2 separate regions of the Homo sapiens genome follow, and region 2 is linked to region 1. Evidence: fine-mapped expression QTL. Tissue or cell type: transverse colon. Region 1 holds a variant in brackets; the other region holds the start of a gene. All regions are shown on one strand. Distances are between the middles of the regions.

Region 1 (13,670 bases):
AGCTTTGCGCAGTGATGATACCCTCGAGGTGGTTGTGATGACATCAGATTTGCAGAAAAGAAAATTGCTTAAGGGCCTTGCCCATGGGCGCAAAGCTAGTGAGGACCATGTTTTCCCCCTCCTCCATGCCATTGGGACACCACAGGGTCTGAATCTGGGGCACTAGGGGTGGCCCCGTTACTGTGAACCACAGCAGTGAAATGTGGAGGCCCTGTAGTCAGTTAACGTGACCAGATACACATAATGGGGAGACGTCCTGCCGTGACTTCATCTCAGAGATTTCGCTGTCACGTTAGAGGAGGAGGAGCGTCTGAGCCGTGCGCTTGGCATCTGCCCCTTAGTGAAAACCCTGGGCATGGCATGATTAAGGTTGATGCTCCAGTGTCCAGAAGGTTTTCTTTTTGCCCACAAGTATATCAGGGATGGGATGGTGGACCCAGGCTCCTCCACCACCAGACTGCCTTACCTGAGCCCTGCTGGCCCCAAAGATATAGAAGGCACCCTGGTTCCCTGTGCTCACCTGGACCACTGCCTGCATCAGCTGGGTCAGGGGAGGATGGGCAGCCCCCACACCTGCTTCCCAGGGGCAGGTTGCCTGGCGGCTCTGATTCCCTTGGTGCCAGCTGCTGAGAACCTTACTGCCATTTCAGTTGAGCCCACCTAGCTCTCATATAAATACATGTTCCCTGAGGGCATCTTACCATCCCATGTGACCACTCCAGCCAGACAGGGGAGGCAGCACGGCCTCGGGGCACAGCACTGCTCCAGGAGTCAGGAGGCCTGCCTTCTGGTTCACTCACTAACAGGTGAGGTGATCTAATGGGGGTGAGAACTTCTGCCCTTAACACCTCAAGAGCTGTTGCAGGACCAGGGAAGATAATGGGGTGTCTAGCGCCGTTATCCGACTGGTCCTCGAACAAGCTCCTGTGCCCAGGGACTAGACCATGACTCACAGCTCCTGTCCACACCAGGGATCACCACGCTCACCCTCCCCTCCATGTCCTGCAGGGCTTGTGTCTGACCCTCCTGCTGCTTGCTGTGTTCAAGAAGGCGCTGCCCGCCCTCCCCATCTCCATCACGTTCGGGCTCATCTTTTACTTCTCCACGGACAACCTGGTGCGGCCGTTCATGGACACCCTGGCCTCCCATCAGCTCTACATCTGAGGGACATGGTGTGCCACAGGCTGCAAGCTGCAGGGAATTTTCATTGGATGCAGTTGTATAGTTTTACACTCTAGTGCCATATATTTTTAAGACTTTTCTTTCCTTAAAAAATAAAGTACGTGTTTACTTGGTGAGGAGGAGGCAGAACCAGCTCTTTGGTGCCAGCTGTTTCATCACCAGACTTTGGCTCCCGCTTTGGGGAGCGCCTCGCTTCACGGACAGGAAGCACAGCAGGTTTATCCAGATGAACTGAGAAGGTCAGATTAGGGCGGGGAGAAGAGCATCCGGCATGAGGGCTGAGATGCGCAAAGAGTGTGCTCGGGAGTGGCCCCTGGCACCTGGGTGCTCTGGCTGGAGAGGAAAAGCCAGTTCCCTACGAGGAGTGTTCCCAATGCTTTGTCCATGATGTCCTTGTTATTTTATTGCCTTTAGAAACTGAGTCCTGTTCTTGTTACGGCAGTCACACTGCTGGGAAGTGGCTTAATAGTAATATCAATAAATAGATGAGTCCTGTTAGAATCTTGGAGTTTGGTCCGTTGTAAATGTTGACCCCTCTCCCTGCATCTTGGGCACCCCTGGGATAACTTGTGCTGTGAGCCCAGGATGGAGGCAGTTTGCCCTGTTTGAAGGAACTTTTAATGATCTCGCCTCTCTGCACACATTTCTTTAACTAGAAAGTTTCCTAAGCAAAGGAGTTAGGAGAGCAGGGTGGCCTGACATCTGCCAGCCCTGAGCTGTAAGGCTGTGGATGCTGAGCAGGTCCCTGGACTCAGTTGTGCACGGTGGCACAGACACTGCCAGGTGGTTGCCAAAACATCCAGTGGTTCCTTCAGCAAGTGTTCACCCTCTGCAGAAGCCTGTGAGGGCCTGAGCTCAGAAACCACTCTCCTTTCCTTCTCTGGCTTTGGCCCTGGGCACTGTGGTGGGAGAGTGGACAGTTTGGCTTTGCCTTCTCTGTACATCAATCATGGGTTGCAAAGAGAATCTCAGAAGTGCCTCTTCCTGAGCACAGTGGCTCACACCTGTAATCCCAATACTTCGGGAGGTCGAGTCGGAAGGATCACTTGAGCCCAGGAGTTTGAGACCAGCCGGGGCAACATAGTGAGACTTTGTACAAAAAAAAATTTAAAAATTAGCCAAGCATGGTGGCATGCATCTGTAGTCTCAGCTACTCTGGAGGCTGAGGTGGGAGGATCACTTAAGCCCAGGAGGCTGAGGCTGCAATGAGCCGAGATCAAGCAGGTGTTAGGTATATCAGACAGCTGAGAAGACGCAAGTGTGCCCTGGGGTTCAAACTGGTACCCCTGTCTCCCTGTTCCAGGAATAACATGAGTGCCGGGACAATGCATCTTTATTATGAGAGGAATGAGAATTGTGTATCTTGACATTTGACAGGAGCTTGCTTTCCCCCAGGCTGTTTGAGGAAGGGCAGAGGAAAATGTGGTGCCCTAAGAAGGAAGGACAGAGGAGGCCGAACACTGGCGGGTGGAATCCCACTGATTAGTAGTGCAGGTCAGAGACCTGGGATGGGGGGCATTGCCGTCATGGAAGCCACAGCGGGGAGCGGGTAAAGCAGACAGGGATGGTCCCTGATGGTGACAACTCGCAAGAGGTTAAGGGGAAAGAAAAACTGAAAAGCTTATTCAATTTGGCAATTATGGCAGTGTTTATCTTCAGAAGAGCAGTTTTAGGGTGGGGTTTCCAAAGATGGGATTGGACATATATTTTGAATCATTAAGCTTGAGGTCTTTCAAAGGCCTGGCCAAGGGTTGCTGGGTGGAGACCACATTCAGAGGTAAAGGCAGAAATTGGGGGCCCTTAAGTAGACAGCGAGGGAGGAAGAAATGAAGGGGCCTGGTGATGGTTAGGGTGAAGTGTTAAGACTGAGAAAACAAGGACATGTGAGAAGACGAGGGAAGAGCATTGGAGAGAACAAAGACACTGGAGGAGATGCTACTTGGAGGTCCCCAGAGAGCAGGGAGACAAATGAACCCAGAACACAAATGGCAAAGAAGAAAAATGAGAGAATTTGTAAAAGACAGCATTCGAACATGCCGAACAAGAGCAGGGTACTGGTGTTCAAACACCTGTATCTCCCCCGTGTAACCCGTCAACTAATATCTTTCCATATTTGCTCCAGATTTGTCTTTAGAAATAAAACCCACGTTCTGAAGTCCTGTTTGTATGTGGCCCCAGTCCTGTTGCCTCCGCCTCCTGTCCTGAAGTCGATTTCTGCCCTTCTCATCTATGGTTAGTTTTGTTTTGTATGTTGGCATGTTTTCTTAACTTTACAGAAATGGTATCATACTGTACATATTTGATAATTTTTTAAAATATTGCATTCTGGAGGCATGTATAAATGTAGCTCCAGTTCATTTATTTTATTTATTTTTTGAGATGGAGTTTTGCTCTTGTCACCCAGGCTAGAGTGCAATGGCGTGATGTTGGCTCACTGCAACCTCTGCCTCCTGGGTTCAAGCAATTCTCCTGTCTCAATTTCCTGAGTAGCTGGGATTACAGTTGCCCGCCACCATGCCTGGCTA[A/G]TTTTGTATTTTAGTAGAGACGGGGTTTCACCACGTTAGCCAGGCTGGTCTCAAACTCCTGACTGCAGGTGATCCACGCACCTTGGCCTCCAAAAGTGCTGGGATTACAGGCGTGAGCCACCGTGCCCAGCCCAGTTATTTTAACTATTGTATAGTGTTCCATTGTATGAGTTCTACTGTTTATATGCTATTGATCGACCTGTAGGGGTTTTGCAGTGTTTCTGTATTACAGCTGTGCTGCAGTGAGCATCCCATCACATTGTGTGGATTTGAGGAAGTATTGGAATTCCCCCAATTGACTGGACATTCCCAATTACCCTCCAAGTATGTGTCTGTTTATCCTTCCATCCGCAATCTGAGAGTTCCCCAACTCTATAATACTTGGTGTCATCAGACTTTTCATCTTGTCTGATTGGATGGGTGTCATTTCCTTTAGGTTTTATAATTATCTTTTCATATGTGTATTGGCTGTACAAGGTTCCTTCTCTGTTCATTATTATTAATTTTTTTAGACAGAGTCTCGCGCTGTCGCCCAGGCTGGAGTGCAGCAGCGTGATCTTGGCTCACTGCAAGCTCCGCCTCCCGGGTTCATGCCATTCTCCTGCCTCAGCCTCCTGAGTAGCTGGGATTACAGGTGCCTGCCATCACGCCCGGCTAGTTTTTTTGTATTTTGAGTAGAGATGGGGTTTCACCGTGTTAGCCAGGAGGGTCTCGATCTCCTGACCTCGTGATCCACCCGCCTCGGCCTCCCAAAGTGCTGGGATTACAGGTGTGAGTCACTGCGCCCAGCCCAAGTTTCCTTCTCTGTTACTTGTTCATATCCTCTGCCCATTTTTCACTTGGATTTTTTGTCTTACGGATATTTAAGCCTCTTAAAATATATATTCTGGAGAGATGCTAATCTTTGATTAATTATATGCATTGCAAATGTCTGGTACATTGTGGCTTGCCTCTCTTCCCTGCCTTTAGGAGTGTTTTGCTGGACCCAAGTAATTTTTAAATGTTAATGTTATTAAATCTATCAGTTTTTTGCTTGTATGGCTTATGCCATTGAATCTTGTTTTAAGAGATCCTTCCCTACCCTCAAGGTTTTCTAAATTTTTATTTTCATAATAAGATTTTTAGTTCATCTGAAATGTATTTTTATGATTGTATTTAGTAGGGACCTAATTTTGTTTTTCTTTGTAACCAGGTGTCCCAGCACTGTTTACTGAACAGTCTCTCCTTTCTCGCTGGTCTGTAGAACTCTCCTGACATATACCAAGTTTCCATAAGTGGGTGGATGGGTTCCTGAGCTCTCTACTGTTAATAGAACTTGCTCTCTCGCAGGCCAATGCCTCACCAGGTGATTGAAGCAGAGAAACTTAGGTGGTGAAAGGAGAAGATGGGGCCTGTCCTGAGAGTTTCTGTTCCTGAGATGCTAGAGGCAGAGGGTATGTAAATCTGAAGTTACACTGGATCTCCTAAAACAGTATAAAGCTACAGAAGTATAATAGTGTGGAATGGTGGTGGGAGTCAGTAAGGGTTAGGTCACTGCAGTGGTTTAAACAAGATGGGCTAGAATCCTTTCACAGGCACAGGCAGCTTGGAGAGGGTGCAATAGTGCATGGTATCAGGGGTCAGATGCCTCTTTTTCCTTTGAGATCAGTAAGTGGCTTTCACCTCATGACCTAGGCTGGCTGCTGTGTGCTAGCCGTCAAGTCACACTCCATCCAGCATGAAAGGAGGTTAGAAAAGGGTGCATTTCCTCTTCTTAAAAACATGTCTCAAAGTTGCACACAGCACTTTTGCCTATATTCAATTGGCCATTAGTCCCACGGCCATACCTGTCTGAGACTGAGAGACTGGGAAATGTCTTTATTTCAAGTGGCCATATATCCACCTAAACAAGATAAGGGATACGTGGTTATGGCGTGTCTTTTGGTTTACCAATGCAGATAATGAAGTTACCAAAACAATGAGAAAATGGGGTCGTGAGGGATCATGTGAATCACAAGCTGATGTCTTCAAAGACGGTGGAAATGGGCCCCGGGAGGCAGCAGATGACAGCAGTGGGGATTAAGGTAGACCTCCATCCTGGGGTTAAAATGAGGGGAAGGTGATGGAGCTGGACCAGCAGTCAGAATGGTCAGTGGTTAGGAGACCCTCTGCCCCCCACCGCTGCCACCATTGGCTCTCTACAGAATGCCTGCGAGTGGCTTAGAGTGACCAAGGATGAGGTGCAGATCCATGTGCACCCCCCTGCCCCCTCTGTGGACAATTTTCATGCCTGACAGCACAGTCTATGTGGATTGCAAGCCGATGAAACTATGCAAAGTAGAAGCATGCCTGCAGTTTGTGATTCGGTGATGTGTTTTATGCTTATGTGAGTCGAATGGGGCGGCAGGGTCCTGTGGTCACCCGCTGAGAAGGAAGGGTCCTGTAACCACTGCCTTTCTTTCAGCTACTTGAGAAAGGTGTTGTGAGGGACCGTGGATTTTGGGACAGCTTTGAATGGTGGTAGGGAGGAAGGGTCCGGTCTGAGTGAATGGCCAGAAAGCTGTGGGGAAGCTTTTAGGACATTGGCCAAGAGCTCCCTGAAGGCAGCCAGGGAGATACTTGTCAGTACATGTGACTAATGGCCAACTGAATATAAGCAGAAGTGCTGTGTTGCTGTGTGCAACACTGGACACCTTAGGAAGGACCTCGAGACAGTGGTTGTGGACTCTGTAGAGAGTAACAGTGACAGTAGCAAACCCTTACCCAGTGCCAACCTTGTGCTAGGCTCGCACTAAATGAGTTTACCTTCAATTCTCGTAACAATAGGAGGTAACTACTATTCTAATTTCCATTTTATAGATGAGGAAACTAAGGCACAGAGATCACTGACTTGCCCAAAATCAAGCAGGGAGTAGTTAGTATATAAGCCCACGGTATGTGGTTTGTAGAATAGGTGCTCTTGACTAGCAGAAATAGGTCCTCCCTGCAGTGTGTAATTGATAACAAGCATGGGCTGCCATCTTCCTGTCGAGGCCACTCAAAACACCCAACAGGCTACGCACGGTGGCTCACACCTGTAATCCCAGCACTGTGGGAGGCCGAGGTGGGCGGGTCACCTGAGGTCAGGAGTTCGAGACCAGCCTGGCCGACATGGTGAAACTCCGTCTCTACTAACAGTACAAAAATTAGCTGGGCGTGGTGGCGGGCACCTGTAATCCCAGCTACTCAGGAGGCTGAGACAGAAGAATCACTTGAACCAGGGAGGCAGAGGTTGCAGTGAGACAAGATCACGCCATTGCACTCCAGCCTGTGTGACAAAAGCGAAACTGTCTCAAAAAAAAAAAAAAAAAAAGTATGATTTTATAATCCCAGCACCTTGGGAGGCTGAGTCGTGAGAATCACTTGAGCCCAGGAGTTTAAGACCAATCTAGGCAACATGGCAAGACCCCATCTCTGCCAAAAATAAAAAATAGTCTAATTTTAGCTATTCATGTGTGTGTGAAGTGGTGTCTCTTCGTGGCTTTGATCTGCATTTCCCTAATGCTGACTAATGACGTTGGGCACCTGTTCATGTGCTTACTGGTCAGATATCTTTCTTTTGTTACATTTTATTAAGTTTTAAAATTTAAAGTCAAAGATTTCCCTATGAGAATGACTTTTAAAATGACCAAAAAGGGGAAGATAACATTAATTCTTGAAGAGAAGGCCTCTGAGAAAAATACAGTTGTAGCAAGCTGCTACTTTGCAAATGACCCATGCATTTTAATTTTCCCCTAAGGAAGGCCAAGGAAGAGTCTTATCACCTCAGGGCAGGAGATGTAGGGACTTGGGTCATTTAATAAGAGTGGTAGGTTTGAAAACTCAAACCCAGAAGACTCCTTAGAGTTTCTCCCAGGAGGTAGGGAAGGGGCCGCATCCATGGAGAGAGGAGGATGTGACTTAGAGCAGTGGTCCCCAATCTTTAGGGACCAGGGACTGGTGTCATGGTAGACAGTTTTTCCACAGATAGGGGTTGGGGGGATGATTTGGAGCTGAAACTGCTCCACCTCAGGTCATCAGGCATTAGATTCTCATGTGGAGTGTGCCACTTAGATCCTTGGCGTGCACAGTTCACAATGGGGTTCGAGGTCCTATGAGAATCCGATGCCACTGATTTGACAGGAGGCGGAGCTCAGGTGGTAATGCTCATCTCCACCGCTTACCACCTGCTGTGCAGCCTGGTTCCTAATAGGCTATAGACTGGTACTGGTCCATGGCCTGGGGGTTGGGGACCCCTGATTTAGAGGAAGTAAGGGCATGGCTTACCGTGGGCCCTGGGGTGTTCTGGGAATGGGGAGGATGGAGAGAAGAGAGGAGGTAGGGAAGACCTCCCCTTGCTCCCCATTTGGGATTTGGGGAGAAAGTCAGGTCTCAGGCTCAACAGTACCTGATCCTGTACCATCTTCCAAAGGGAAGTCAGTGGGGTTGGAAGGTAGGCAGGGGTTATCTTCTCTGAGCCACGGCACAAGACAGAAGTTTCCCACCATTCCTGAGGGGGCAGGTGGTAGGTCCCCAAGCAGAGAGCCAGCAGTCCCTCTCTGAGGCCTGCAATGGAATGGGGTGGGGTGTCCACTGAGCCAAGGGTCTGTCAGTGAGAGCTGGGGAGGCTGGGCTGGCTTGCAAGCACCTGTTATAACCAAACCAGGAAATCAGGTTCCGAGTCTTGCCAGCAAGGGCCTACAGCTGCCAGCAGAGATGGACAGCCAGGAGACCCCAATTGGCCACCCAGAGCCACCCTCCTCTGCCTACCCCACCCTCCAGTACTCCAGAGCCTACTCGGAGGGGAACAGAAACCTGAGAGGCTGAACACACACACATGGAGAAACAAACGTAGTAAAATATTTGGGGAATCAGGAAGAATTATTTGTACTATTCCTGCAACCTTTCTATAGGCTTGAAATTATCAAAATAAATTTTTAAAAATTGTAATAACATTCTCATACTAAAACACTGAGTTTTTTTCTTTCATTTTTTGATTTTTTCTTTTTGACTCCAGCATGACTTACTCTAACAATGGGTGGTCTCGATTTTGAAATACTTTCTTCTCCAAGCCTTTCATGACACCCTGTCTCTGTTGGTTCTGAAAATGTTGGATTTTGTCTCAGCCCTTGCTTCTGGAAACAGCCAAGGTTAAGAAAACCCCCCATGCTTTGTGTTCTAGCAGACAGCTTCCTGCAAAGAGCCATCTTCCCAGAGCACTTAGGCCTCTTAGATGTCTCCCTTGTTTAATTATGACAAGAGCACACACACAGACCCTCCAAATTCCCATTCTTAGTCTTCTAAATGATTAGCTGAGCTGCTTTTCCCCACTGATTAATCGGAATAAAATGCTCATTAACCAAACTTCCCTCCTTTCCCCAGGTCCCTAAACTTTCCTGAGTCGGCAGACATCCCCTCTGGAGAAGAGGTTGGCCCCAGAGTCGAACATCCTCTGATCTACCTGATCCTGCTGCCCTTCCATTCCACTTCCCCACATCTGTTCTTTCTGGTCGTGTTTACTCCCCTATTAAAAAAACAAAACCAGAAAACGTGTTTGCCTAGATCTTGAGACTCTGGAAGATCTTAACAGTCAGAGGTTCCCCCTATTTGCAATGATCTCCTTTCCTGCCCCTTCCTATCCTTGCAATAATCCTTTTGAATAAAGTCTCTCCTTACTAAATCCAGTTCCTAAAAATTAATTTTTTTAGAGACAGTGTCTCGCTTTGTCACCCAGGCTGGAATGCAGTGGCATGATCATAGCTCACTGCAACCTCGAATTCCTGGGCTCAAGCAATCCTCCTGCCTCAACTGAGGCTACATGCATGCACCATCATGCCTTGCTAATTTTTTTTAATTTTTGTCGAGACAGGGTCTTGCTATATTGCCCAGGCTGGTCTGGAACTCCTGGCCTTAAGTGATTGTCCAGCCTCAACCTCCCAAAGCGCTGGGATTCAAGCATGAACCACCGCACCCAGCTCCAATTTTATTTTGTTTGGCAGTTTCCTCCTACTCTTCTTCCCTCCTCCTGCTCATTCCTTGGCCATTTTCCAGCTGCTGCTCTGCTTTTACCCTAGATGCACATTTTCAGGGCTCAGTTCTCATTCCTCTTCTCTGCTTGCTCCTCCTCTCTTCCCAGTGTGATCCTATCCATTCACGTGGCTTTCACAAGCGAGTTGCCTTCCCCAGTATCCCTCCTAGCAGATCCTGCTGTGCTCAGGGTGTCCTCCTGCATATTTAGCACTGCTCACCTCCCAGGGTCCTGGGCACTTAGGAGTGGCCATGTGACTCAGCTCTGCCAAAGTCTAGTGCTTGGGTCTTCCAGAAAAGCTATTGTTCTCCTGGTTTTAAAGGCGGGGAGGGGCGCCTCAGCCATAATCTGCCATTTTTTCCTTGCATGGGACACAGATGTGATGCTTTGAGATGTCACAGCTGCTTAGCGACCACCAGGATGAAAGCCGCAGGCAAAGCGTGTATGACAGAGAAGGAAACCACAAGTAGCTGCCCCAGCCACCCCTGGACTTCTTTTCTGTTTGTTTGTTTGTTTGTTTTGAAATGGAGTCTCACTCTGTCACCCAGGCTGGAGTGTAGTGGTGCCATCTTGGCTCACTGCAACCTCTGCCTCCTGGGTTCAAGCGATTATCCTGCCTCAGCCTCCCGAGTAGCTGGGACTACAGGCACAAGCCATCATGCCCTGCTAATTTTTGTATTTTTAGAGAGATGGGGTTTCACCATGTTGGCCAGGCTGGTCTGGAACTCCTGACCTCAAGTGATTCACCCACCTAGGTCTCCTAAAAGTGCTGGGATTACAGGCTTGAGCCACCGTGCCTGGCCTGGTCTTCTTTTATGTTATTAATAGAAACCCCTATCTGGTTAAACTATTATAGTTGGGTTTCTAGTACGTGCAGCCACATGCAAGCCTGACCTACCTTTCAGTCAGACATCTCTGCTCACTTGGTATCTCTTCCACTTAGGTGTCTCAAAACACTGTTCTTCTCTCCCACCAACACCCCAAATCTGCTCCTCCAGTGTTTAACACCCCCAAAAAGCTTGTCTAAGTAGTTTCTCCAGAATTCTTCTTAGAAAGGGAGCTACTGCTGGGCGCAGTGGCTCACGCCTGTAATCCCAGCACTTTGGGAGGCCAAGGTGGATGGATCACCTGAGGTCAGGAGTTCGAGACCAGCCTGGTCAACATGGTGAAACCCTGTCTCTACTAAAAATACAAAAATTAGCCGGGCATGGTGGCACATGCCTGTAATCCCAGCTACTAGGGAGGCTGAGGCAGGAGAATCGCTTGAACCCGGGAGGTGGAGGTTGCAGTGAGCTGAGATCACACCATTGCACTCCAGCCTGGGTGACAATAATGAAACTCCATCTCAAAAAAAAAAAAAGCTGTATTTATTTAAGAAAACATCTTGATGAGAAGCATCAAGTAAAAGGTGAAGCCCTAAGGGCATGTATCAGAAAATTAAATGAATAGATACACTGCTTTGTATTGGAACAAGATTTTGAGGCTAGGGGATGTAAGGAGAAGAAAGTGTTTCTTGTAGCTGGATATTGCAATAATTTCACATCTGTTTCCAGGTAAATAAGCTGGGAGCAGAATTCATCCCTTTTCTCTTGTAGCAATGCAGCCATTCGTTCCTCATTGCATTCCTCATTATCTTGGGATGCATCTTAAGCAATGGCAACAGAGTTCTCCAAAGCTTCATCCTTGGTGGGAATAGCGTCTCCATCCCTGAGTCACAGGTGGTGGTTTTCTCAGACACTGCATCATCACAAACCATGAACTTTCACCCCTGCATGGGACGGTGATCACTCACCCCCTCCCACAAAAGGACATGGTGCCATAGTCACTTACATATTCCTTCTGAGGGTATGTTCTGTGCATCCCCACTGCTGGTACCAAATCTGCCTGCCTTCATTGGATTAGAAGGAGCAGAAAGCCACTTAGACTGCCTTAGGGAAACACAAGATTATTACGCACCTGTTAAATATATTTTTCTATTTATAACTCTCGCTTTTTAAAAGGGTCCTGTTTGGTGGCTTTTCTTCTACTAAGCACAGGGTCTGGTTAAGCAAGGGGAGCTGAATGTCTCTGTATGATAATACTTGGGGAGGGATTTGGCCTCCACTTGATATAGAAGGAAAAGGAGCCAATAGGAGGCAGGTGGCCACATACTATGATGTAACCTCGCCCCCAAGAGCCCCCAGAACCTTTGATCAGGTCAGTCCAACTCTGAAATAGTGACTATTCACAGAGAACTCACAGAGTCAGGGATGTGGATTTGATTCTTACTCATCCATCTTGCTCACCATTCCCTGTGCCTTGAAATCTGAATATTTGAGTCTTTATTCAGATCTTGGAAATTTTCTCCCCTTATTTATTTTCTCTGTTTTCTCTTTTTGAGATTCCCTCAAGACTGGTGTCAGATCTCAGAACTTGTTTTTTAGTGTCTCTTCAGTGTTGTCTCCTACTCTCCATCCCTTTGTCTTTTCCCTGCTCTGTATGCTAGGATTTTTCTTCTAGCCTTTTTAGATTTTATTTTTTGACAATCTTGTTTGTTTTTTTTTTAATTTCCAAAAACTCATGATCTTTACTTGCTCCTCTCTCATAGCTGTTATTTTTGATGGAGGCAATATCTTCTCAGCTCTTACTGAGAAACGAGTAATTCTTGAAAGGTTTTCTATTTGATTAATTGTCTCAGTTTTCTTTAGCCTTTTTGTTTATCTGTTCATCTTAGGTCCTTTTATTTCTTATATAACTCTTTGAAAATGGCTGATGATCCTTGCTTGACTGTTCACATTTATGAATGAAGAACTAGACTAGGTGTCTGGAGTTACTTTCCTTGGCAGATGTCAGTCTGGTGGTGGGTTAAAGTATTATCCAGTAAATATTCATTCCCTTGCCTGCTGGCCTCATGAGGGAAGCCTGATCCCAGGCCATGTCCTCTCACCCCTCTTCGGTGTTCTCTGTGGTGCATGGGAACTGCCTGCACTCAGTTCCTGTTCAGCTCTGCTGCTGGGGGACCAAATTGAAACAGGACATGCCCCAGTTTAGCCAATGTCACCCTCTACTAATTACCATCTCATTCAGCTAAGAAAATGTATCTTCCGGCCAGGTGCAGTGGCTCATGCCTGTAATCCCAGCACTTTAGAAGGCCGAGGCGGACGGATCACCTGAGCTCAGGAGTTTGAGACCAGCCTGGCCAACATGGTGAAACCCCATCTCTACTGAAAATACAAAAATTAGCTGTGGCCAGGCACGGTGGCTCATGCCGATAATCCCAACACTTTGGGAAGCCAAGGTGGTGGATCACAAGGTCAGGAGATTGGGACCATCCCGGTCAACATGGTGAAACCCCATCTGTACTAAAAATACAAAAATTAGCTGGGTGTGGTGGTGTGCTTCTGTAGTCCCAGCTACTCAGGAGGCTGAGGCAGGAGAATTGCTGGAACCTGGGAGGCAGAGGTTGCAGCAAGCTGAGATTGCACCACTGCACTCCTGGCAACAGAGCGAGACTCTCAAAAAAAAAAAATTAGTCGGGCATGGTGATGGACACCTGTAATCCCAGCTACTTGGGAAGCTGAGGCAGGAAAATCACTTGAACCCAGGGAGTGGAGGTTGCAGTGAGCAGAGATGGCGCCACTGCACTCAGGCCAGGGAGACAACATGAGACTCTGTCTCAAAAAAAAGAAAATGTATCTTTCTAAAGTATGTGTGTGTGTGCGTGCGTGCGTGTGTGTGATAGTCCCTTATAGTGACAGTTTCCTAGCAAAACAAAAGAGAAACATAATAAAATGTGTGGGAATTTGGTGTCTAGAAAGCTAAGTTATATTCTGCTATCAATAGCCATAACCATCTGGTCAGTTCACTTCTGTGGGCCTGTTTCTCATATTTATAAAGTGAAGGGTTTAAAACACATTCATGATTCCCAAACTAGGGATTTGGAGAGTAGTAAAGATTAT
Region 2 (16,135 bases), 30 kb before region 1:
TCGGACTGACCTTGCCCTGGAACCCTACTGGTGAGACTATTGTTGACATGGAATGTGGTTCTGCATGGCTCAAAAGAAACTACTTCAGGCTCACTCCATGGCAATCTTATGTCAGATATTGCTAGCACTTATCTACTCTTCTTTTTTTAGAGACAGAGGTCTCACTATGTTGCCCAGGCTGGACTCAAACTCCTAAGCTCAAGTGATCCTCCCACCTCAGACTCCTAAGTAGCTGGAACTTACAGGCATGAGTCACCACACTTGGCTTCATCTACTCTTCTATTTTTTTTTTCATGTGAAGCAAGGCTTCCAAATTTGTGAACAATAATATAGTCTATCATTTCAATGTCAAACAAAACCAAACAAAGCTCCTACCTCAAATGAGAAGAGAAGTAGGAGAAGGAAGACAACTAAAATTTGTAGAGTGCCTGCCATAATCCTGTCATTTTGACTGGTTTCTCTTTAATTCTCTCTATAAACCTCTGAGAGATATCATCCTATCCTCTCACAGGTGGGAAAACTGAGGCCCAGCAAGGTTAAGAAATCACCCTGGGTCAGGCAACAAATAAGTAGAAGAGACAGATTTCAGACCTGGGTCCATCTGGTTCTAACATTCACACGGGTTCCGTTCCCCCACGCTGTCTGCTAAGCAGTGTTGGGACCCTAGAGTGTGTTAAAAGAAAACACCATGCTCTGAACACCAAAACCCGAAGAGAGGCCATCCCTCCTGAACTGAGGCCAGGCCCAGGAAGAAGTTTACTCATCCCTCACAAATCAGCATGTGAAAAGCAGCTGACGACCTCAAAGGAAAACCACAAAGGGAATGAATTCATCAAAGATCCCTCAGCCACAGCCCCAGTGCATGCACTGCCATGGGACCTTCAAAGTGAAGGAGAGGGCCAGCCACTGCATTGGGCCAGAGGGACTTGAGTTCCACATCTGGTTCTGCTACTCATTATCCAAGCACAATTGGGAAACAATTTTGTCTTTGTAAACCTCCATTTTCCCATGTGTAAAAAAGCAATAATGCCCTCCTCTCCCTGAGTTCCTCCAAGAATTAAAATAAGGAATCCAAGACAGAGACAAGACACTCATGGGTAGTGAGAGAGACAAGTGAAGAAGACCCTCCTGATAACTCCCAGTAAACGCTGTGCAAAGAAATGGAAGCAGAGAGAGCTGCATGGCATTGAGCATAGCTAGTGGGGCATACAGCGTAGGAGGAATGTGGCTGGAAAGGCCGTGTGTGCAAGCAAGCTTTGATTTAACTGTATGTGAGGGAATCACAAAATTACAATGGCTTAAACAAGATAAAAGTGGTTTTCCCTCCATGAAACCAAGTAAGGAATTAGGCAATGCCAAGCTAGTGGCTCCACAATTGAGGACACAGCTCCTTCCATTTTGTGGCTTCACCGTCCTCATGGTCTTCATGGCCCAGCATGGCTACCTGAGCTCTGGCTATCATCTCCATATTCTCGAAAGGAAGCAGAATGACAAAAAAGACATGCCTCTTCTCCTTCCATCCGATTACCTGGAACTTAGTTACAGGGCTTCACCTAAAATAGTCTGAGGGATTTCTGAGTGCAGTGGCTTATGGGCAGTTGTCCATGTACCTAGGATTCAGGGAGAGGACTAAACATTCCTCATGTAGCTTGCTGGTGCCAGGGTGAGCAATATGGACTTTGTTCTCAAGTAATTGTGATTGTGCATTTTGACATGCCTGGCAGTTCCCTGGGGGACTGGTGCAGAGGCTTGTCTTTTCTTCAACCCCTCAGGCTGGTGCACCTCCCCAGGTGGCATCTTGTTTGTTTTTGAGACAGAGATTCACTCTCGTCACCCAGGTTGGAGTGCAATGGCACGATCTCAGCTCACTGCAACGGCACGATCTCAGCTCACTGCAACCTCCGCCTCCTGAGTTCAGGCAATTCTCCAGCCTCAGCCTCCCAAGTTGCTGGGATTACAGGCGCCCACCACCATGCCTGCCTAATTTTTGTATTTTTAATACAGACGGGGTTTTACCATGTTGGGCAGGTGGGTCTCAAACTCCTGAGCTCAGGTGATCCACCCACCTTGGCCTCCCAAAGTGCTGGGATTACAGATGTGAGCCACCGTGCCCAGCCTGTTGAAAACATTTAAAGACATAAACTCCCCATAGCTGTCTGGAGCAAGGGACAGCAGATGGGTCATGCAGCACATAGACCAAAAATCCTGGGAAGGAGGACGCTGAGGAGGAAGATGCTTGGGGAAAGAAGGTCGTTGAAGGGCTACTGCATATACCAGGGAACCCAGGCTGCAATGCACATGTCCAGGGCTGGACACATGCTCAGAAAAGATCTAAGAGGACCCTAGGCTTGCACCTGTGGCTGATCTTTGTATTCCATGCAAGCAGGAGGTAAAGTCTAGGGAAAATGGAAAGAGTGGCTTGGCTAAGTGTCTAAGGAATGCCTCAGCTCAGAGCCAATCTGCCAAGATCAGAAGATTTTTCTTTTGTGTTTGGTCCAGGTGTTTTTAGTCCAGGTATTTAAGGAAATCTGTGTCAACTGTGGCTGACCACTGAGGTAACAGATCAAAGACTTCAGTGTCTACATATAAAGAATGCAGTCTGCAAAAATCATATGGAAATGTCACTAAACAAAGAAGACTGCAGCCCTTAATAAGCAATAACAGCAAATCTTGCAAAGGGCAAAGAATCTGATTTCCAGAGTTATCACATTATAATATTCAAAATGACCAGTTTTTTTCTTTCAATCAGCTTCCTCAGGTTGAAATGTCGTTTTTAACAGCAGCAAAAAAAATTAGAAGGCATACCAAGAAAAAAAGAAAAGTATAACCCATTCACAGGAAAAAGAAACTGACAGAAGCCATCCGTGAGGAAGCCTAGACATTGAACTTGCCAGGCAAAGAGGGCTGGACTGTTCAGCCCTACCCCTTGACCTCCTGGGTCAATGATTTTATGGCCAATGATGTTGATCAATCAATGGTGCCTACGCAATAAAACTTCCATAAACACCCCCAAATGGCTACGTCTGGGGAGCTTCTGCTAACTTCAGGTACATATTATCAGAATTGAATTGAATTGTAGGACACACACTTGGTGTCTGGAGAATTGTTTTTGTGTGGAATAAAAAAACCACACACTTGGTGTCAGAAGTGTTGTGAGAAAAAATAGTTCAGAGAAGTATTCCCTCCTCTTCTATTTCTTAGTAGAGTTTGAGAATTGGTGTTAATTTTTCTTTAAAGGTTTGGCAGAAAATTCACCAAGCTGAAGCCATCTGGTCCTGCTTTAGGGGAGGTTTTTGATTACTGATTCAACCTTTTTTTTTTTTGTTTGTTTTTGAGATGGAGTCTCGCTCTGTCACCCAGACTGGAATGCAGTGGCTCAATCTCGGCTCACTGCAAGCTCCGCCTCCCGGGTTCATGCCATTCTCCCGACTCAGCCTCCTGAGTAGCTGGGACTACAGGCGCCTGCCACCACACCCGGCTTTTTTTTTTTTTTTTTTAGTAGAGATGGGGTTTCACCGTGTTAGCCAGGATGGTCTCAATCTCCTGACCTCGTGATCTGCTGGTCTCAATCTCCTGACCTCGTGATCTGCCCGTCTCAGCCTCCCAAAGTGCTGGGATTACAGGCTTGAGCCATCGTGCCTGGCCTTACTGATTCAACCTCTTATTGGATTCAATCTCTTTACTTTTCCTAGCTTGTTCAGATTTATTTCTTCCTGAGTCAGTTTTGGTCATTTGTGTACAGTTGTTCACAGTATTCACTTAAAATGCTTTTTTTTTTTTTTCCTGTAAGGTCCATAGTGATGCCCCTACTTTCATGTCTGATTTTAGTTATTTGCATCTTTACTCTTTATTTCTCAGTCTAGCTAAAGATTTGTCAGTGTTGTTCATCTTTTCAAAATTTTCATTTCAGCTATTGTACTTTTCAGCTCCAGAATTTTGATTTGGTTTATTTTTCATAATTTGTCTCTTTGCTGATATTCTGTTTATACATTTATTGTTTACCTGGCTTCCTTTAGTTCTTTGTCCATGGTTTCCTTTAGTTAGTTAAGCATATTTAAGACCATTTAAATAAACGTTTAAGTAAACTTTTAAACATTTAAATAAAAGTCTTTGTCTAGCAAGTTCAATGTCTAGGCCTCCCCAGGGATGGTTTCTATCAATTTCTTTTTCCTGTGAATGGGTTGTACTTTTCTTTTTTCTTGGTATGCTTCCTATTTTATTTATTTATTTACTTTTTGGTTAAAAACTGGGCACTTCGGGCCTGGCATGGTGGCTCACGCCTGTAATCCCAGCACTTTGGGATGCCGAGGTGGGTGGGTCACAAGGTCAGGCATTCGAGACCATCCTGGCCAACATAATGAAACCCTGTCTCTACTAAAAATACAAAAAATTAGCTGGGTGTGGTGGTGGGTGCCTGTAATCCCAGCAACTCGGAAGGCTGAGGCAGGAGAATCGCTTGAACCTGGGAGGTGGAGGTTGCAGGCTGCTGAGATCGCGCCACTGCACTCCAGCCCTGGTGACAGTGGGAGTCTCTGTCTCAAAAAAAAAAAAAAAAACAAAAACTGGGCACTTCAACCTGAAAAAGCTGATTGAAAGAAAAAAAAACCTGGGCATTTTGAATATTATAATGTGGTAACTCTGGAAATCAGATCCTGTTAATGCTTATTAAGGGCTGCAGTCTTCTGTTTGTTTAGATCATGCCTTAGTCTTTCTGGCCACCAGCCCCTATCCTGAAGCTAGTCAGGGGTCCCCAGCCACCAGTCATTTCATTAGCATACCAACAACATTCATCACACCTGAGATTCCAAAGGTTTTAGAAGCTTGTGCCAGGAACGGGGATAAAGACCAAATATTTATTTTTATTATATCACAACTTCCTAACTCATTTATTGAGTCATTATGCTTCACCTTAGGGCATATGCAGCCTCTTCACATTAGGGGAAATTCAGCCTATCAAGTGCAACACTGAAAGCTAAATAACAACAACACAACAACAACCAATCAGGGATGGGCGCGGTGGCTCATGCCTGTAATCTAATCCCAGCACTTCAGGAGACCGAAGCGGGAGGGTCACTTCAGGTCAGGAATTCGAGACCACCCTGGTCAACATGGCAAAAACCCCCTCTCTACTAAAATTACAAAAATTAGCTGGGCAGGGTGGCACATACCTGTAATTCCAGCTAACTTGGGAGGCTGAGGCAAGAGAATCACTTGAACTTGGGAGGCAGAGGTTGCAGTGATCTGAGATCGTGCCACTGCACTCCAGCCTGGGCGAAAAAGCAAGACCCTGTTTCAAAACAACAACAACAACAAACCAGGTTGGGGAGTTATTTCCCAGGAATTCTGTAGCAAGGGCTCATATGCATCAGTTAGAGTTGGACTTTGTGACCTTCAGGTGTCCTTCCTTTTCCAAGAATCGATTATTTTTATAATTCTGTTAAATGTAATTAATTTCTCAAATTTATCAAAGATCATTATTTGGACCATTATTTTCTTAGCCAAAATGCTGGCCTGCCCCAGTTCCATCCAGGGTTAATCTGCATTTAAACAGCTCTTTGAAAATATTTGGTTTTCCCCATCCATCTATGGCCAATTGATTTTTGACAAGAAGCCAAGACAATTCAATAGGAAAAGGACAATCTCTTCAACGAATGGTGCTGGGACAACTAGAAGTCCACATGCAAAACAATGAACTTGGACCCTAACCTCACACTACATACAAAAATTATCTTAAAATGGATCAACAACCTAAATATAGGAGCTAAAACTATAAAACTCTTAGAAGAAAACACAGGAGTAAATCTTCACAACCTTGGATTTGACAATGATATCTCACACAGGACACCAAATGCACAAACAACAAAAGAAAAAACAGTTAAGCTGAAGTTCATCAAAATTAAAGTTTTATGTGCATGAAAGGACATCAGAAAGTGAAAAAGACAATTACAGAATGGGAGAGAAATATTTGCAAAGCATATATCTGATAAGGGTCTAGTGTCCAGAATATATAAAGAACTCTTACAACCCAACAACAAAAAGACAACCCAATTTTAAAATGGGCAAAGGACTTGAATAGGCATGTCTCCAAAGAAGATATACAGATGGCCAACAAACACATGAAAAGGAGAATGCTTAATAGCATTAGTTATTAGGAAAATGTAAACCAAAACCAGAATGAGGTACCGCTGCACACCTACTAGGATAACAATAAAATGGAAAATAACAAGTGTTGGTGAGGATGTGGAGAAATTGGGATCCTGTACATTGCTGGTAGGAATATAAAATGGTTCAGCCATCGTGGAAACCACTTGGGGTTCCCCAAATAGTTAAACACTGAAGGCTGGGCACGGTGGCTCATGCCTATAATCCAGCACTGTGGGAGGCCAAGGCAGGCAGATAACTTGAGTTCAGGATCAAGACCAGCCTGGCCAACATGGGGAAACCCCATCTCTACTAAAAATACAAAAATTAGCCAGATGTGGTGGCACACACCTGTAACTCCAGCTACTCAGGAGGCCGAGGCAAGATAATTGCTCGAACCTGGGAGGCAGAGGTTGCAGTGAGCCAAGATTGCGGCCACTGCACTCTAGGCTGGGCAACAGAGCAAGGCTCTGTCTCAAAAAAAAAAAAAAATTGAATTACCATGCGATCCAACAATTCAACCCCTATGTATGTACCCTCCCCAAATAAAAATGGGCTCTCAAACAAATACATGTACATGCATGTTCATGGTAGCATTATTCACAAAGCCAAAAGATGCAAACAGCCCCAATGTCCATAGATGAATAAACTGTGGCATACATGATACACACACACACACGCACACACATATACATATACACACACAAACACTATTCAGTCATAAAAAGGAATAAAGTCTGTTACATGCTACCTGAGGATGAACCTCGAAAACATGCTAAGTGAAAGACACAAAAGTCCACACACTGTGATTCCGTTTATATGAAGTATCTAAAGTAAGTAAATATAGAGACAGAAGTAGACTGGTAATTGCCAGGGGCTGGGGGGGAAGAGGGCATTGGGAAGAAACTTCTCAATGGGTATGGGGTTTTTCTTTCGGAATGAGGAAAATGTTTTGGAACTAGACAGAGGTGGTGGTTGCACAGCATTGTGAATTCACTAAATGCCACTGAAATGCCCACTTTAAAATGGTAAATTTTATGTTATGTGAATTTCACCTTAAGTTAAAAAAAAAAAAGTAAAACTACTCAGACAACGCCAAATTATTGACAATCTCAACCTACCCCACAGACCCCAAATCCTGGAACCACAACCCCCTAGGCCAATTCTCAGGTCAGGCAGCAATTTATTCCTGTTCAATTTTATGCAGAGCTCCTGGTGGCTCTGAAGCGCCCTAGGGAACAGACCAGGAACATTCTCATGGTGTTAGCTCACATTGGGCCATTAGTGCTCCTTTAATGTGAGAACAACCGGGAGGAGGAGGGGATGTGGACCCAAAACTACAAGAAAGAGTGTCCTCGAAGCCTATGTCCTACCGCCCCACGCTGCTGCCAGGCCCGCAGGAAGATGACAGGCCCGGCCTCCACTCCTTCTAAGGTCGTCGCTTAGTTCCGACGTCGGGATGACCCTGTCATCCACGCGGCGTGAAGGCCACCCTCCCCGCGCGCCCGGGACTCCAGGTGGGGCCCCAGTGGACGAGGGAACGCGGCGTCGCCCACCGGGCGTGGCCTGGGCGGGCGTGGGGCGGGGCCTGGGCCGGCGCCGGGTCCGGCCGGGCGCTCAGCCAGCTGCGTAAACTCCGCTGGAGCGCGGCGGCAGAGCAGGTGAGCGGGCGGTGCCGGGGGGTGCCCAGGCCAGGGCCCTGTCGCCTGCGGCGCTGAGGGCCCGGGGTGGGGCTGCGCCCTGAGGGCCCTGCCCTGCCCTCCGCACGCCTCTGGCCACGGTCCCTTCCCCGGCTGTGGGTCTGCGGCCCCTGCGTGCGCAGCGCTCCTGGCCTCTGCGGCCAGCGCGGGGGCGGAGAGAGGAGAGTGCCCGGCAGGCGGCGGCTGGGCCGGCCCGGAACTGGGTCGTGGAAGGATCGCGGGGAGCGGCCCTCAGGCCTTCGGCCTCACTGCGTCCCCACTTCCCTGCGCCCGCCTGCCGCCGAGCCCCGGCTGGGGGTGGGCGCGGCGCGAGCGGTTAAAGGGCCGGTGCATTTAAAGGAGCGGTGCACGTGGGTCTCTGAGGCGTGTAGCAGGCGGGGGCGTTTTGTTCTTCTTCTCTCTCGCCGGAGACCTCCGTTGCGCCGAGTCCATTCGGCCTCTAGCACCGGGTCCTGGGCATGCTTTCCCCGGGAAGGAGGCGCGCGGGGGCTCTGCCCGCACGTGAGGGGCAGGGCCGCAGGCTCAAGCCTAGAGCCGGTTTCTGTTAGCAGCGGTGTTTGGCTGTTTTATCAGGCATTTCCAGCAGTGAGGAGACAGCCAGAAGCAAGCTTTTGGAGCTGAAGGAACCTGAGACAGAAGCTAGTCCCCCCTCTGAATTTTACTGATGAAGAAACTGAGGCCACAGAGCTAAAGTGACTTTTCCCAAGGTCGCCCAGGTACGATATAGCAGAGCCAGGCTTCGACCCCAGTGTCCTGGCTTCTAGATCTGCTGTCCATCCCTCCGAGCAGACCTCACCCCTGTTTATTGCCTTAATAAGTATTCCCTTTGAAAGGTATGAACGGTGTTGAGTGAAGTAACTGCATCCCTATTTACAAATGGAGAACCTGAGAGCATTCCATAGAGACGATTGTAGACTAACTTAACTCAGAAGCGACAGCCTGGGGTTGCCAAGGCTGTCTACGAAGTAACTTGATTAGGACCGACCCCAGCTTCCAGTAAGGAAGCCTCTGATGCCTCTGTAGCCAATTCTGCAGACACCTGAGCCTCCAAGGCCTTCAGCCAAGACCTTTGGCGGTAATTGGAGTCTCGGGATAAGCTGCTTCAGGTGTGTGAGCCTCAGGTTCTTCTCTCCTGAATGTGGTTGTGGGCAGCCGGTGACTGGCGCAGGTGCAGAAGGGGCCTGGTTCTTGGCCCCACCTCAGAGCTGCGTCCTCACGACGCCCACGTTGAGCCTTGGGTTCCAGGGCAGAGACTGGAGTGAGGGCTTGGGGGCATGTTGCTTTGAAGTGGGATGGATGTATCAGGTTTTTGGGGAAAACTCTGTACCCTTTGGTGTTGAAGTGCCCATGTGCCAAGTCTTGAGTCCAGCATGTTCACATGTGGGGAGTGAGTGGCTTGTTCCTGTCTATTTGAAAGAGCAGCAAGGAGGAGGAGGAGCAAGGGCTAGGGGCTGCTGCTGGGGTGCCTGGAGCTGTGGTGCATAATGTCACACCTGTCTCCCCTCCGTAGCTGCTCACCGTCCCCCCAAGGGGGGTTTGCCTCTTGCCTACTTTGGCCTTTCTCTGTTATCGATGTTAATAATGACATATATCTCGCTTATGAGTTGGTCATAATAAAAAGCTATCTTGTACAGAATATTAGAATTTAAGATCTTAAGAATTTCAATGACACTGAAATAGTTTATTATTACCTTTTTACAGAAGAGGAAACAAGTTCAGGGAGTTAAGCAGCTAGTCCAGTTATGTGGCTTCAGTGCTTTAAGCACCAGGATTTGAACATAGCTGGCTACACTGTCTTTATCTCTTGAGTTTTTGCGCAGGAGGTTCCTGTATTCAACTCCTACCCGTGTCTCTCCACTACTGCTGGGAAAGTTTTGTGGAGTCCCCATGAGCAACTTCCTGACAAACAAACAAAATTTTTTTAAAGAAACCAAAGCAGTGTGTGTAGGTCACATGCAGTGTGTCTAATGAAAACATCTCTGGCGGGTTTTCAGCTGTTGCTTTGACTTTCGGACACTGTTTAGTTGGGGACTGATAAGACAGCAAATATTTCTGCAAGTATTCCCACCTGTTCTATTCCCAGCTGCCACAGCTGCGGAAAGGCGGGGGTGAGGCTGAGAGGCCCCGAGAGGAACATTTTCCACTGGGCTCCAATCCTGGAGATGGGATGACCATCATGTTAATGTCTGGAGAAAAGAATGATTTCAGGCTGGGTGCTGTGGCTCATGTCTGTAATCCCAGCACTTTGGGAGGCCGAGGTGGGTGGATCACCTGAGGTCGGAAGTTTGAGACCAGCCTGACCAACATGGAGAAACCCCATCTTTACTAAAAATACAAAATTAGCCGGGCGTGGTGGCACATGCCTGTAATCCCAGCTACTCAGGAGGCTGAGGCAGGAGAATCGCTTGAACCCAGGAGGCGGAGGTTGCAGTGAGCCGAGATCGGGCCATGGCACTCCAGCCTGGGCAACAAGAGCAAAACTCCATCTCAAAAAAAAAAAAATGGTTTCACATCAGTCCTCAGGAAAGATCAGATGTCAGTGAGGGAGATCATTTCTTGAGAGCCTCTTCACTGAGTGGGAGAATGGGCTGCTTGTTCATCTTTGTGAAAATTCTAGAACGGGAAGAACAATTCAAAGGGTGTCCACCATTCTGCTGTACCTTAACCAGAAACTTACTGGACTCTTTTTAAAATAAAAGTAATTCATGTTTATTCTAGAAAATTAGGGAAAAAAAATTTTTTTTGAGATGGAGTTTCACTCTTGTTGCCCAGGCTGGAGTGCGATGGTATGATCTCAGCTAACTGCAACCTCTGCTTGCCGGGTTCTAGCGACTCTCCTGCCTCAGCCTCCTGGGTAGCTGGGATTACAGGTGCCTGCCACCACTCCCAGCTAATTTTTGTATTTTTATTAGAGGCGGGGTTTCACCATGTTGGCCAGGCTGGTCTCAAACTCCTGACCTCAGGTGATCCGCCAACCTTGGCCTCCCAAAATGCTGGTATTACAAGCATAAGCCATTGCGCTGGGCTGAGATAACCACTCTTAACATGCATTTCCTTCCACACTGTTCACATATGCATATTTATCTATTAAAACAATAGAGGGAGGGAACCGTAGGTGAAGTTTGTGTATCCTGTTTTTTCTGTTATGCCTTCAGAATTTTCCTTTTATTGAGTACTCATGGAAAAGCAGATTTGATGGCTGTGTAGAGCATTTGAATTATTTATCCTACCAGTCCCACAGCAGGACACTTTCCCACCCTCCCTTTTGCCCCAGAGAAGCAGTGCCCTCTGTCCTCCCCATGCCCATATGTGGGCACTCCCCACCATGGAGCCAAACCTACCTGGGCAAGTAGCAGAGGGAGAGCAGAGTGAGCCCTGGGGGCAGGAGAGAGACTTGAGAGTTTTGAGGTGACAGATGAGCTGGTGAGTGAGTGATTAGGGAGCATTTCTTGACACATACCTGCCCGTGGTGAAGGCATGTGTCTTGTGAGTGTGCTCCCAGAAAGCCTGTGTAGTGTGTGGTGGGCCTGCCTGTGTGACCAAACCCTGGCCACTGGGTACGTGACCCTCACAAGTGCTGACTGGGCTGAGAAGAGCTCCTTGATGGGCAGTTTGGAGACTTGAGTTGTAACTGTGGCTTTTGGCCATGGGACATTAACTGATTACTTTTGCCCCTCTAGGCTTCAGTTGTCCTTAATTATAATACAGGGAGCTGACTAGGTGGCGTTGATGGCCTTTACGGTCCTTGCCAGCTCTGACATTGTCCTATGGATATGTCCTTTCATTTGATAATATGTTTACGTGGCCATAGTGCCTGGGGCTGGGCCGGGAATGGAAACTTGATCTCTGGGGCCTGGCCTTTGAAGCCAGTTCATGTGTCTGGTGGTTCAGCAGATCCGTAACTTTCCAAGAGGCACATCCATAGGCTACCGTGTCCTTTCTCACTGTGTCCCTCCTCCATTTCATCTTCTTTATAACTACGACTTATTGAACATCTACTGTGTGCTGGACACTTTACAGGTTATCTCTAGGTTTTACGATAATCTTGCAAGGTATGCCTGTTCTGCTTTTTACAGCAGAGGAAATGAGCTGTGTCAGATTAGACTGTCTGAGGCCTCTTGGCCAGGGAGTATGTGGTTCAAATCACATAGGCAGGCGATCTGAACCCTGTCAGTCTCCAAAGCCTCTGCTTTTGACCGCTGACTTGCTGCTGCTTGTTTAAAAATAAATGTGTTTCTGGAGCCTACTCCAGAGGGGCGTGCTAGGGGCTCCCTCTCCCACTTCCCCACAAACCACCCTTTTCCCTGGCTGCTTCAGGAAATGAGAGAACTCTGCCTGGGCCCCAGGCACTTCTGAGTGGGACAGGGCTGTTAGAGGTAAGTCTAGAGCCTGGCCCAAAATTCAGGAGGCCCCATCAGAGGGCCCCTGGGGCCTGTGGTCCGGGAGGGTGGTAGGGCAGTACCTCACTTCCCTTTGAGACTCAGGCCCCAGCTCTGGCTTAGGCCAGGGAGAACCATCCCCAAGTGGTATGTGTTACTATATGAGCTGAGATGGATGGTCAGCTGGACCAAATACATAGTCGGGTACCCAGGGCCAGGGGGAGGAAGGTGAGCAGGGAAGCTGTGGGCAATTGTCTGGGTATCACCTGACCTTAGCAAACTCTTCCTTGTTTTAAGCGAGGACGTGGGACTTCTCAGACGTCAGGAGAGTGATGTGAGGGAGCTGTGTGACCATAGAAAGTGACGTGTTAAAAACCAGCGCTGCCCTCTTTGAAAGCCAGGGAGCATCATTCATTTAGCCTGCTGAGAAGAAGAAACCAAGTGTCCGGGATTCAGACCTCTCTGCGGCCCCAAGTGTTCGTGGTAAGTGCAGTGACTCCCAACCTGCTTTTGAACCCTCTTTTTCCATTAGGATTTTCTCCGTGGAGGCAGATTTCCATGGGAGTTTGCTGTGGCATTTTGAAATCTGTTTCTTACCTAGTTCCATTGGCCTTAAATGTTAAGGCCAAAGCCTTTACATTTCTCTGTAATGAAAAGAAGGTCGAGGAAATTGGGTCATTGGGTTTCCATAATGATTGCAGGAACTGCTGACACAAGCACGGCTGGGGAGATTCTCTAGGTCAGACTCCCTTGGTTTGGCTAATTCAGCAGTTTGATCCCATTCAGCTGATTAATGGGAATGTGCAGTGGCTTCTTTGGATGTTTGATTTTGCATCCTAATCCAAAGCAGCTATCAGCCTCAGCACTTCCTTGTTGGAAGGCTTTCCAGAACGTAGTCTATGTTGGACACTTCCTTCTGCCTCTCTGCATTTTCCTGCCACTTCTCTAGAGAATGGGGTGCAGGGGGTGGGAGACGGGGAAAGCTGGTCGCTGAGTGGCTGATGGGACTTGACATCACCCAGCCCCACCCCCACCTGCCCGTGAGTCAGCCTCCGGGGAGAGTTCATCGCGTCACCGGCACTCTAATGTGGACAGACACCTAGCAGTGTTGTTTATCTGCACACGTTTGGGTGGTGATTTTTCCCTCCAAGGATTTCAGAGCACCAGCAGGCTTCAGAGCAGACTTAGGTGGCTTGCAAAGCAGGCCCTCAGGAATTCAGAGGGTAGCAGAAGTCCATCCCAGATGCTCTGTTTTCCTTCAGGAGCTAGGTAAATCAGAGGGGCTGAGGGACAAATGAAAAAAGTTACAGCCTTTGAGTCCCATCTGCTCCTCCTGGCCAATGAGAGGGGATCTGGGAGGGGCAGATGTAGAGGAAAATCTGTCTAAATGTTGATGCTCGTTATTTTCCTTTAAAGAATTAATAGCCTAAAATAAACCCTACAGATACAGTCTGTGTTTATTATGGCGACTTAGAGAAATGCAGAAAAATATCAAGAAAATAAAAACCACTCTTGGTTCTACCATGCAAAGATAATCATCTTTAATGTTTTGTAATATTTCCGATCTTTTATATACATACATTTTATAAGGACATTCAGATGATCAGGTTCGTAAAGTTTTATGTTCGGTTAAATTTAACAGCGTGTCATTGTTCAGGTTATTAAATGTTTGAAATAAGATTTTTGGTGGTCCTGTCACAGTCTCCATGAAGTAGCATTTCAGGATCGAAAGGTATGCTGTGTTTAAAGTGTTGATTCTTACTCCTTTCAGTTAAGGCCAGTGCAGTTTGTCCAGGTAGTGACTGAGACCCAGTTTTTCCACACTCTCCTCCGCAGTGGGCATTGTTTTGGGCCTTTTTCAGCCCAAGAGCTCTCTTCTCCCCATGCCGCTCTGCTGGTCTGAGATTTTTCCACTCCTCCTCCTCCCTAGTTGCTCTCTGACCAGACTCTAGGTATTCAGGAGAAAGTGTTCATTGTCTCACTCTCTCATGTGGCAATCAAGTAGTGCCAAGCAGTGAGAGGGTGAAGGTGGGTGGGTGAGGGACACTCACCTTGCTGAGAAAGGGCCCCAGCCTGTTCGGGTGATTATAAAGCAGAGACAGTGCCAGGAAAAGTCTGACACTGGCTGAGAATCACCCGGGGACCAACCATCCCGAATGCGGATCCCTGACACTGGGTGAGGATGGAGCTTGGAGATCTGCATTGTTAATAAGCAGCCTAGCAGAGTGGTGAAGAGTCCAGACACACTACCTAGGTCCAAGGGTAACCTTGAGCTAATTACTTTTTGAGCCTCTGTTTCCTCATCAGTACCATGGGGAAGAATAGTAGCACCTTGCTCCAGGATGTTTAGTGCCGGCTAAGGGCTCAGCAGGTGCTGGTCCATCTCCACCAGCCCCCAGTGGCCTGGGCCACCTTTGAGAAACAGTGATCCTAAGGGATTCAGCATTTCCTAAGTTGGTGCCTCCCACCTGTCACCCCCACCCCACCAGGCTAGGAGGGTTGTGATTAGAGGGTGCCCTTGCTGTGACAGCTGAGACTAGCTCTTCCCTGATTATTCCTTAATGACAGCTCTCTCCTTCCCTGCTTTCTTGAAGTCTTGGTCCTCGTTGTTGTGGGCACAGCTTCAGGGGAGGCCTTGGAGGAATTTTTGAAAGTGGAATGAGGGAAGCAGCCTGCTCAAGGGAACACTTGTTTTCTGGTGAGGAGGCCGCATGTATGAATGACGTTTGTGGGTTAGAAAGCATGTTTTGTAGTTTTTCCTTGTTTCTTCCTGAAGACATGTCAGGTCTTGATGAGACCGGGCCTGGGCACAGGGCAGGCAGTCAGCGAGTGTGGATGATGACGACAGTGGTCACCAGGTCACTGTCTAGACCAGGTCACTGTCTAGCGCAGTGTCACATGGAAAGGGTATGGTCCTTTAACCCTACCCTCCCCAGCACAACTATCACAGATGTCAGGGAACCTCTGCTCACAGAACTGCTTTCCAGGGATTGTCTTTTTTTTCTTTTTCTTTTTCTTTCTTTTTTTTTTGAGACAGAGTCTCACTCTGTCGCCCAGGCTGAAGTGCAGTGGTGCGATCTCAGCTCACTGCAGCCTCCGCCTCCTGGGTTCAAGTGATTATCTTGCTACAGCCTTCTGAGTAGCTGGGATTACAGGTGCCTGCCACCATGTCCAGCTAATTTTTGTATTTTTATTAGAGACGGGGTTTCCCCATGTTGGCTAGGCTGGTCTTGAACTCCTGACCTCAGGTGATCTGCCCACCTCAGACAGGCATGAGCACCGCACCCAGCCCCAGGGAGCGTCTTATTAGTGGTTGGCAACTGAATGGAGACGTGGGAATTGTAAGGAACTGATTCTACTTGATCCTGGGTCCCCTGCTTCTCCATCTTCACCCACCCATCAGCTCCCTTTCTCCTTTAAACAGGCACCTTTGCTCTCTGCTTATCCATTTTTGTTGTGCATTGCTATTTGGGAGCCTAAGAAACACAACATCCTCTGAATGCTCCAGCTGTTGTGGGTCTGAAGGGTGAGCCTGCCCTCTGTCATTGGAGGCTGCAGCCTGTGGCTTTTTAGGTACAGGGACTCCCAGAACTGCTCCTCCAGTCATAGCAGAGATAAATCACAGGAGCTTAAGAGGCATGGGAAGAACAGAGGGAGGAGATCGTAGCTTCCCTGTTCATTCACACCCAAAACAAAACTGTCATACTAGAAAAGGAGGTATTAAAAGAGCCACCTGTACAGCCTCGTATCTCATCCAGCACACTGCTGCAGATGGAATATTATGATTTAGCTTGAGAAAATGCAGCAACTCTTTGTTGTGGTGCCCCTCTTTGAGTAAGAGTGAATTCCCCATTGCCAGAGTGGATAGTGAGGGAAACCCTGGGTCCAGGCAGGAGTCTGTTTAGGATTTATCTA

Direction of the effects. Alleles are on the strand shown, and positions count from the first base shown. SD is a standard deviation of normalised expression in the study named.
As copies of G replace A in region 1, the expression in transverse colon of the gene that starts at base 7,769 in region 2 goes down (small effect, 0.29 SD a copy in GTEx).

The links. PIP is the estimated chance that this variant, and not a neighbour inherited with it, causes the effect.
Region 2: it holds the start of PSEN2, and the variant in region 1 is fine-mapped to the expression of PSEN2 in transverse colon (GTEx, PIP 0.99). The same link has a PIP of 0.9 or more in esophagus muscle, prefrontal cortex and tibial artery.

The regions. Positions count from the first base shown.
Region 1 is chr1:226,894,416-226,908,085 of GRCh38, forward strand. PSEN2 (presenilin 2) reads left to right here. Exons shown (of 13, transcript NM_000447.3): 13 at 1,009-1,683. The coding sequence ends at 1,164. Among named protein-coding and RNA genes, the nearest start is that of PSEN2, 31 kb to the left of the region's middle. RefSeq lists a silencer at 1,479-1,710. The variant A/G (reference allele first, on the strand shown) is at 3,708.
Region 2 is chr1:226,862,848-226,878,982 of GRCh38, forward strand. PSEN2 (presenilin 2) reads left to right here and starts at 7,769. Exons shown (of 13, transcript NM_000447.3): 1 at 7,769-7,802; 2 at 8,415-8,557; 3 at 12,518-12,703. It overlaps LOC105373119 (a long non-coding RNA gene), which reads right to left and starts at 7,703. Exons shown (of 3, transcript XR_949226.4): 1 at 7,515-7,703. RefSeq lists an enhancer at 527-1,075 and silencers at 7,572-8,171, 8,182-8,231.